Homo sapiens: one gene and its partner. The protein of the gene in region 1 purifies or fractionates together with the protein of each later gene. This does not show direct contact. Each region holds a gene or a part of one and is shown in the gene's direction. Other genes may lie near its edges.

Region 1 (5,008 bases):
AATATGTGCCCAAGGTGGTCGGGGACACAGTTTGCTTTTATACATTTTAGGGAGACATGAGACATCAATCAATATGTGTAAGAAGTACATTGGTTGGGTCTGGTAAGGCGGGACAACTCACAGTGGGGGCTTCCAGGTTAGAAGCAGATAAGAGACAAAGGTTGCATTATTTTGAGTCCTTGATTAGCCTTCCACTGAATGCACACATTTCGTCTGGCTCAGTGAATCTGCATGTTTACATAAACAATAGGGCAGAGGAAGCAATCAGAAATCCATTTGTGTCAGGTGAGCCTCAGAGGGATGACTTTGAGTCCTGTCTGTCCTTTATCCACAAAGGAATTTTCTGAGGGCAAATTGTGAGGGAGGGATGTAGCTTCTCATCCTTGTAGCTGTCTTATTTAGGAATAAAGCGGGAGGCAGGTTTGCCTAACATAGTTCCCAGCCTGACTTTTCTCTTAGCTTAGTGATTTTGGAGTCCCAAGATTTATTTTCTGTTCACACCATCATTCCTTACCCACCCCCTATTCCTACCCTACCCAAATCTGCTAGCTCTGCCAGTATTCCCTATTTCAATTACAATGACATCACCATCTACTTAGACCAGCTAAAGTCTCACAGTCATCCTAGATTTCTCTCTCTTTCACTTCCCAGCAAACGTGGGTTATCCAAATCCTGTGGGTGTTTTTACTTGCGCGAAATCTCTGCTGGCTAGTCTTAACAGCCACTGCCCGAGGTCAGGCTATCATTTTCTCTGGGTTATTCTACCACAGGAACAACCAAACTAGTCTCCCTGCTTCTCACCGATAACCCATATTTCTTTTCTTTCCTTTTTTATAGTGACGGAGTCTTGCCGTGTTGCCCAGGCTGGTCTCGAACTCCTGGCTTCAAGCGGTCCTCCTACCTCAGCCTCCCAAAGTGCTGGGAATAAGCATTAGCCACTTCACCTAGCCTAGTAGTCCAGATTTCTAATGGAATGGTTTTTATGAAATGTGGGTCTGATTGTATCTTTTTCCTACCTAGAAATCTTTAGTGTCTCCTCATAGCGTGTGAGAGAAAGTCCAAATTCCTCAGCAGGACAGCAGATCCCTCCATGCGTAGTCTAACAAATCTCCTTTACAAGTCCATCCCCTAACATGTTTTTCCCTCTGCTCCACCCCATCACCCTGTCTAACACCCACCAACCACACGCAGTGAGCCATGAATGCATCATGCTCTTCTCTTGCTTTGCAGTTGTGACTTCTCTTTGGAATGGCTATCCCTAACCTTTTCTTTCTGGTGATGTCCTTCAAAGTCCAAATCTAATATCATATTCACTAGGAAGCCTTTTACCATAAGCTGAGGTAGTTGTGTTGTCTTTTCTGATCTCATAGAATTTGCATATATATCTGTATTGCAGCACGTGTCCTATTGCTAGAATTGTTTTTGTAGTTGCCCTACCTTTAAGACTGATTTAGACTGTGTCTGTTTAATGTTTGTATGCTCATTACCTAGTGTGGTGCTTAACAATAAGTTCTTATTTGAATGAATTAACAATGGCATGTATGATGAGGAATATATGTTAATATCTGGCATTTGGTGCTAATTAAATTTTTCTTTTCCTGACAAAGTGAGGAAATGTTCATAATTCATATCATAAACAAAGGGCCAAACTCCCTAATATATAAGGAGCTTCTAGAATTTGACTTTTATAAAGATACTAAAAACTCAGTGGGAAAACGGGCAAAGGATAAAAACAGATAAACACAGAAAAAAATATAAATTATTCTAAATATATGGAATGATGCTCAACTTTACTCATAATAAGGTAAATGCAAATTAAGTATACCCGAGATAGCCCTTCTTTCTTGATGAATATGTGAAAGTTTGATGATATCCCCTGCTAGTAAGATTGCAGAGAAATAGGTAAGGTACTGTCCTACATCGTTTGAGGACTACAAAGTAGTTAAACTCTTATGGAGAGCGATGTAGCAATATCTACCAAAGTTATGAGTGTATAACTCTTTCGCTCAGCTCTTCTTTTAGAAATCTGCCTAATGAGGGCCTGTCATTGTAGCATTATTTGTAATAGCAAAAAATGGAACCTATCCAAATATCTAGATATGTGTTAAGTAAACACCTATATAACAGTGAATTAGACATAATTCAGTTGAACTCACAGAAATGGACACAGGTCCATAGTCCCTAGTCACAATTTGGAACTCTGGAAAGCCCTGTAAAACCAAAAAGTTGTTTTCTTTTTGCTTTAAGTTCGGCTCTCAAAATCATTTGATGACAAATTCTCACTCCATCTGACCGAGGTGCCCATTGTGTCTTGGCACACCTACCAGGTATTCCTGGTGTTTTTTATTGTTTTGTTAATTTGGGTTTAACGTGGCAGTGTGGGAACTACCACCACATGTGACTTAAAGAATAGAAAAACAGATCGTGGACGTTTTATAGTGGTAGTAAGGACTAAGAATTGATGAAAAATAGGGAGACATTGCAGAGGACTGAAAATGAAGATTCTAACCATGTTTCGGTTAAGTGGATTTCACAATAGGAAGTAAACAGATGCCACTCATTGCTTTGTTGATGATGGAAAAAGCTGGCATATATGAAGACCTGCTACTGAAGGATGTATTTAGTATTAACAAGGAAGAATTCAGAAACTTAGGAAGCAGTGTGGTGAAAAATATCTAAAAGTATGACAAGAGTTAATTGAAAATTTACTTTCTAGACAGCTCTTTTATGCATTCTCCTCAACTGTAGGTTATAGTTTTTAATCATTTACTTTTACTTCACTGTGACCAGAATACAGCCTTTTTCTTTGGGTCTTGCTCTGTTGCCCAGGCTGGAGTTCAGTGGCACGAATATGGCTCACGGTAGCCTTGAACTCCTTAAGCAATCCTCCCACCTTAGCCTCCTGAGGGTAGCTGGGACCACAGGGCTGTGCACCACGCCCGGCTAATTTTTGTATATTTTGTAGAGATGGGATTTCAGTATATTGCCCAGGCTGTTCTCCAACCTCTGAGCTCAAGGAATAAGCCTGCCTCCCAAAGCGCTGGTATTACAGTCATGAGCCACCATGCCTGACCAGAATACAATCTTTTTCTCCAAGGAGTGCTACACTCTGGGAAAAAGCAAGTATATTGCTTGCACAGTTAAGGGAGGCCTAGGAATCAAAACTTCCTTTAAGAGTTCAGTTGTAAAGATCCTGTTGTCAAAATTACTTAATGCTTGAAATGATGTTGATAAATCAGCAATAATAAATGTTTAACATTTTAGCTGACAATGAGGTTTGAAAATGAACCTGTAGATATTTTGGAAGATTTTCTATCACTAATGAGGTGATGATACCTAATCTCTTTAATTATACCATACATTTAATGGCCCAAACCATAAATACGTCAGGAGAAGCTGATGTTGAAGAAATGCTGAACATTAATCCTGATGCTTCTGTTCGGCACTTTTTGGGTGATGGGGACATTGCTGAAAGGTTTCTAAATGCACATAATTGTCACGCACGTCCATGTGAAGAGACCACCAAACAGCCTTTGTGTGAGCAATAAAGCTTTTTTAATCACCTGGATGCAGTCAGGCTGAGTCCGAAAAGAGAGTCAGCAAAAGGAGTTAGGGGTGGGGCAGTTTTGAAGGATTTGAGTAGGTAGTGGAAAATTATAGTCAAAGGGAGTTGTTCTCTTGCGGGTCACAAGGTGCTCAGTAGGGGAGCTTCTGAGCCAGGAGAAGGAATGTTACAAGGTAATGTCATCAGTTAAGGCAGGAACCGGCCATTTTCACTTCTTTTGTAATTCTTCAGTTGCTTCAGGCCATCTGGATGTATACGTGCAGACTTGGGCTCAGAGGCCTGACAATAGCGGGAAGATAGTAATAACTACATGAATGATTAAATGATGACTATATTGTGAACACAGATGGGAAGATCACTGAAGGCATTATGTAAATAATCATTGCTTAAGCAGAAATATATTAATAAGACAGATGACATTGGTAGAAATCTTTTGAAAAGGTTATCTTGGATATTGTTGCTTTATCACTTGAGAATCCTGATCCTGGCCCATGACCAATGTCTAATTCCAACCTGATAGGCCCTTCTCTTTAAGATTCTCAAGCAATCAGATGTAATGAACATTTATTGCGTGTATGTATACATATACATGCACAAGTATTTAACTTTGATTTTATATATATTTGAAAGTTTACTGAATTTTTCTTTTAAAAAGAGAATACATTGTTTATTGTCTGTACCAGTCTATTTTCCATTTGTCATTTGTTACTCCATACATAATTACATAAATTGTTAATATACAAATGAATTATAATACCATTTACAGTATGTACTTATCCCACTTAATGTGAATATTCACATTTTCTAAACAAATATTTGATATGAGCTGGTCATGGTGACTCATGCCTGTAATCCTAGCACTTTGGGAGGCTGAGGTGGGTGGATTGCTTGAGTCCAGGAGTTTGAGACCAGCCTGGGCAATATAATGAGCCCTTGTCCATACAAAAAAATTTTTTCTTAATTGACTGGGCATGGTGGTGCCCACCTGTAGTACCAGCTCCTCAGGAGGCTGAGTCAGAAGGATCACTTGAGCCCGGGAGGCAGAGGTTGCAGTGAGCTGAGATTACACTACTGCACTCCAGCCTGAATGACAGAGCAAGACCTTGTCTCTAAATGAATAAATAAATAATAAAAAAGAACCAAAACCCCCAAATATTTGATTTATTTAATGACAGGGAGAAGTTTTGACCTTTGCAAAATGTATTTATAGGAATTTTGAATTCCGAAATAACATCTGATGCCAAATGTTTTAAGTAAGAATGGTAGTAGACCTGTATTATAAAAAAGGAGATGGTGACTTCCAAAACAGCAGAGTAAGAATCTCTGAAAATCTCTTCTTTATAAAAAGCAACAAAACACTGACAGAAGTTGTCAGAATCAGCTTTTTTAGAGCTCTAGGAATTAAAACTTTATGAGTTAAAGCTTTACAATAATCTTAGCAGC
Region 2 (5,008 bases), on another chromosome or scaffold:
GGATTCAGATTCTCAAATAGGAATGGAGAGATACTTTAGGATCAGAGTAACATGAGTGAAAGTCAAGGCAGGAAATTTTAAGTCATGTTTCAGGACTGATGAGCAGACTAGTGTGGCTAAAGTAGAGTGTTCATTTAGTAGAATCCTGGGAAACAGGGTAAGAGAGTTTGGGAGGTTTTGGGAGAGCAAAGAGTGTAAATGTAATACTATAGACAGTGAATAATTATTAAGAATCTGGGCCGGGCGTGGTGGCTCACCTCTGTAATCCCAGCACTTTGGGAGGCCGAGGCAGGTGGATCACGAGGTCAGGAGATCGAGACCATCCTGGCTGACACGGTGAAACCCCGTCTCTACTAAAAATACAAGTAATGAGTCAGGCGTGGTGGTGGGCGCCTGTGGTCCCAGCTACTCGGGAGCCTGAGGCAGGAGAATGGCATGAACCCAGGAGGCGGAACTTGCAGTGAGCCGAGATTGCGCCACTGCACTCCAGCCTGGGTGAAAGAGCGAGACTCCGTCTCTAAAAAAAAAGAATCTGTATTTATGCTTTGTTTTTAGCAAATTGTGACATTGTTTTGTGATATTTCTAAATTGTGGGATATTCTTGCCCATACTAATGTGTGACTATCAGAGATAATATTGTCTCTAATGTAGGTAGTCAATTATTTTTAGTGTGTAATAGAAATCTGTCTTGTTATTCACAACTCAAGTGCATATATGACTGTAACCTGTTGTACTTGAGTACCTTAGAGATTTCCCTTTTGCTTCCCTTCAACTCTTGCTATCTCCATTCTATCCTCCAGACCTTAAAGACTTATGCCACCTAAACTGCTTTGTAAATCTCATCAGCAGCTTAATTACAAATCCAACTAACATGGCTGATGCCTTGCTCTTAGCTGACTGCTGACCTGCTCTGTTATTTGGGTGCTAGCCCTACCTCCATGGGCTTGCCTCTTAAATATTTGTCAAGCTGTCATCTGGTTTAAAGTACAGACCAGTTAGTGGTTCTTTCCAAATCAAATATACTTGTTAAAGCTGTATTTAATGGGGTAAGGGTTAAGCTGCTATAACAGAGTTGCTGTTTTTTGCTGTAAGGTTAAGTGGCTTGAAGAATACAGAAGTTTATTTCGCTCTCACTTAACAGCCATCTCACTGCTCATCTCAGTTCAGTGAGAGGGTCAGTGCCTCTCCATGAGGTAGAGACGTGGGGCCCTTTCATCTTGCGGCTCCCCCAGCCTCTAGGGCATTGATGTTGTCTGCATGATTCAGTCAAGTCGCCACCTCTTCCAGGTTTCAGAGAAACAGGGAGGGGCAGAGGTACACCCCATATCTTAAGACCAGGTCTTTGGAAGTAGACCACAACATTCATTGCTGAGAAGTAGTCAGCAGTGACTTGATTGCAAGGAGGGCAAGGAAGTGTCATCTAGGTGGGCAGCCATGCAGCCAGGAAGAAGGGAAGAATAGAATTTGATGGAGATCTAGCAGTCTCGACCACAGGATATCTTATGCATTTTCATTGTTGGCTCTTTGATCAGATCTTCAAAACTAACAATTAAATTACCTCTTTCTTTTTCAGGCAGAGTTGGGCCTAAATGAGCACCATCAAAATGAAGTTATTAATTATATGCGTTTTGCTCGTTCAAAGAGAGGCTTGAGACTCAAAACTGTAGATTCCTGCTTCCAAGACCTCAAGGAGAGCAGGTATCAGAGGAGGACTCTAAGCAAACCAAATAGGAACATGGATTCTTTCTGGTAGCCAGTATGGGGGTGCCATAGCAGAGGCCAGACAATTTCTGGGATTCATCATGATCAATTATTTGCTAAGAGCAGCTACACTAAGCCTCATGGATACAGGAAACAAAAGAAGTTGTATTGTGGTGAAAGCAATGAATCTATTGTCAGAAATGCATGTGATAATTGTAGGATAATTGTAGGATGGCAGAGTTTGAGAAGGAAGTTGCCAAGGGTTTGTGGATTAATGATTGGCTTGTTGTATTGAAGATTCCAGAACTTTAATTACTTGAGTTATTAATTAAATGGTTAGAGCTATAAGACATGGCAATTAGTGAGAAAACACTTCTGTGTTTCATACTGAATAATTAGTAGAGAGGAAAACAGCAGGAAATCATAATGCTGACTAGTACCAAAATTGTTAGTTGATTTCTAGCATGAGATGATAATGGTTGGACCGTAGCTGATTTGTAGCAAGAGATGAATGTCAAGTCAGATATAAGTGAAAAAGACCTCCAAGTGAGCTCCAGCTGCCATAAACTCATGAATGTCTCAGTATTAGAGGCCATCAGCCTTAGACCATTCAGTCCATTAAACTCATCTGGTAATCTGGTTTCCTATCCCCCAGCAGATGAAAGCAACAATTTAATTGGCGAGAACATATGTTCTATTGAAGAATATAGAAAGATTATTAATATTTTAATAAGGATTTATATTTAAAAAGTTGTGGTTTTTTGAGAATGACTAAATTCTGCTGGCTAGATGAAACATTAAAGAATTATAAAACAAATACTATTAACTTGAGTTTAACTATGATAATGCTTTAGTGTAACTGGGTCTTGCTTGATGATGTCTTTTTGGAAGTAGGGAAGAAAATAAAGCTGAGGTTGCGGTAGCTGCTCTTCATCTGCTGAGAATCTGAGGGAGAAGGGACTTTGGAGGGTAGAGGTAGGGAGAGGAGAGGACTGTGTTACTGTGATACTGTCATTGAAACTGGAAGGCACACACAGAAGCTTTTTCAAGGATTTAGCTGTTGGGCATGAATCCTTTGCCCAGAATCATTGCTGAAGATGATTGTGGGGTTTAGTCACCACCAATGTAACCATAGGCAAGTCATCTCCACTCTTCAAACCTGTGTTCCTATCTGTAAAGTTAGGGGATTGTAGAAGATGGCACCAAAGTTCTCTTCCAACCCAAGCATTCTCTATGTAAGAGTAGTTTTGTTTTTTTGTTTGTTTTTTTGAGACGGAGTCTCACTTTGTCGCCCAGGCTGGAGTGCGGTGGCATGATGTCGGCTCACTGCAACCTCCACCTTCTGGTTACAAGCGATTCTCCTGCCTCAGCCTCCTAAGTAGCTAAGATTAAGGCACGTGCCACCACACCCAGGTAATTTTTTGTATTTTTAATAGAGAAGAGTTTTTGCTGTGTTGGCCAGATTGGTCTCGAACTCCTGACCTCAAGTGATCCACCTGCCTCTGCCTCCCAAAGTGCTGGGATTACAGGCATGAGCTACCATGCCTGGCCCTGAGAGTAGATTTCTAATGCTATTGTTGATGATGATATTCATTTTTGTGGAGTGTTCAGTAGAACTTTAAGATAAGCTAGTTTTTATTATTATTATTATTTTGGGTCTCAAGAATGCAAAGAGAAGCAATATATATAATTACCATTTATTTCCCATAGACGTTTACTAACCTGTGAATAGTTCATACAGTTATTAAAATGTTAGAGAAATATTAGAAAGAAATGAGACTATGCCTTCCGGGTGACTTTTGAAATTATTAAATGTAATAAGACTGATTTCAGTGGAGTTTGAAATAAGACATTTAATACTAAAAAGTTAAAAAAGTAGATGATGGTTTTGGGAATGTGTTTGAGCATTTACTTGTATTAAAGGATGTGCACAATTTAATCATTTGAATAGATGTCAAAAATTAATTGAGTTTAAATTATTTTCAATGTTTATTAATAAAGAAGATAGTTCCCAGAGAGATTTTCACTGTAATCTTTGAATTTCTTAGATTACATGAATGTGGGTTTCTTAATTTTGCTGTATTTTGTAGATTTTTCTTGTTGTTTTTCTATAAGTTTTGGATCATGGTTGTTTTTCAGGCTGGTGGAGGACACCTTCACCATAGATGAAGTCTCTGAAGTCCTCAATGGATTACAAGCTGTGGTTCATAGTGAGGTGGAATCTGAGCTCATCAACACTGCCTATACCAATGTGTTACTTCTGCGACAGCTGTTTGCACAAGCTGAGAAGTGGTATCTTAAGCTACAGACAGACATCTCTGAACTTGAAAACCGGTAATAAAATTTGAACTTGCAACTGTGACAATAATGGCCCAAGCATAATCTTAAAAGTTAGTGAACATCTTTGGCTGCATATTTTCTTGGGGCTAGTGTGTGAGGAAATTTGGGTAGGGTAACAGCAAAGCATTGAGTCACTGAGTGATCTCTTGGGTACCACTAAGCACCCTTTTAAAAGTTCTCTGTTTCTACTGTTCCTAGGTATTACAAAGGCCATCGAGATTTATGAAATTGCTTTTCAGGCTATCATTAATTATTTCTTACAGCATTTTTGTTAGCTTGGTCAGTATTACCATCAGTCTTTATAGATTGGTCAACTAAGAAATAGAGATTATGAGACAGTTGAAAAGTCAATTCAAATATAATAAATACCATCAATTCAATCCAGTAGCATTGGAAGTTTTCTAAATAATGGAATTTAAAAGTATACATTTATTAACTTTGAAATAGGAAATATACAAAAAAGCTTATAATATGGACATCTAAGAGCTCAAATTCAAAAAATATGGTAAAATTGGTGAAGTTGAAACTCATTTTAAGAAAAAGCATGCCAGAAATCAGGAAGGACTGACCGCCAAGCCCCGTGAACTACTCTAAGCACAGTCACAGCACATCAGTTCACATGCAGAGTGTTGAACAACGCTGAGGACAACCTATGAGCTGGGGAGGAAAATCATTGAACTTCTGCCACTGTCAGTAGATGACTGGTGAGAAAACTCTGAGAAGGTGGTGCTTTAAGAAGCTTAGAAGCTGACTGCTGTTAACACTCTAAGCTTGTGTGTAGTCACTTCTCATTGGCCTTTGCAAATCTTCAGATGGCACACCCCCACTATCTGTCTTTCCTAGGAATTTGTGGTACTCTTTTTCAGTAGATACTATGGACTATTTTCATTTTTCTGAGACTACTTTATTAAGAATCTTTTTTGAACACCTACTAGCTAACAATACACATTATGTAATAAAACAGTCT

What was found. The genes of interacting proteins can lie anywhere in the genome.
Region 2: the proteins of SC5D (region 1) and LZTFL1 purify together in Homo sapiens (affinity purification with mass spectrometry; one large-scale study listed by BioGRID and IntAct). This does not show direct contact.

Annotation. Positions count from the first base shown.
Region 1 is NC_000011.10:121,295,219-121,300,226, forward strand, and holds part of SC5D (lathosterol oxidase), read left to right. Parts: intron 1-5,008. UniProt on the Homo sapiens protein: Catalyzes the penultimate step of the biosynthesis of cholesterol, the dehydrogenation of lathosterol into 7-dehydrocholesterol (7-DHC).
Region 2 is NC_000003.12:45,834,617-45,839,624, reverse strand, and holds part of LZTFL1 (leucine zipper transcription factor-like protein 1), read left to right. Parts: intron 1-1,573; coding exon 1,574-1,698; intron 1,699-3,840; coding exon 3,841-4,035; intron 4,036-5,008. UniProt on the Homo sapiens protein: Regulates ciliary localization of the BBSome complex. Together with the BBSome complex, controls SMO ciliary trafficking and contributes to the sonic hedgehog (SHH) pathway regulation. May play a role in neurite outgrowth. May have tumor suppressor function.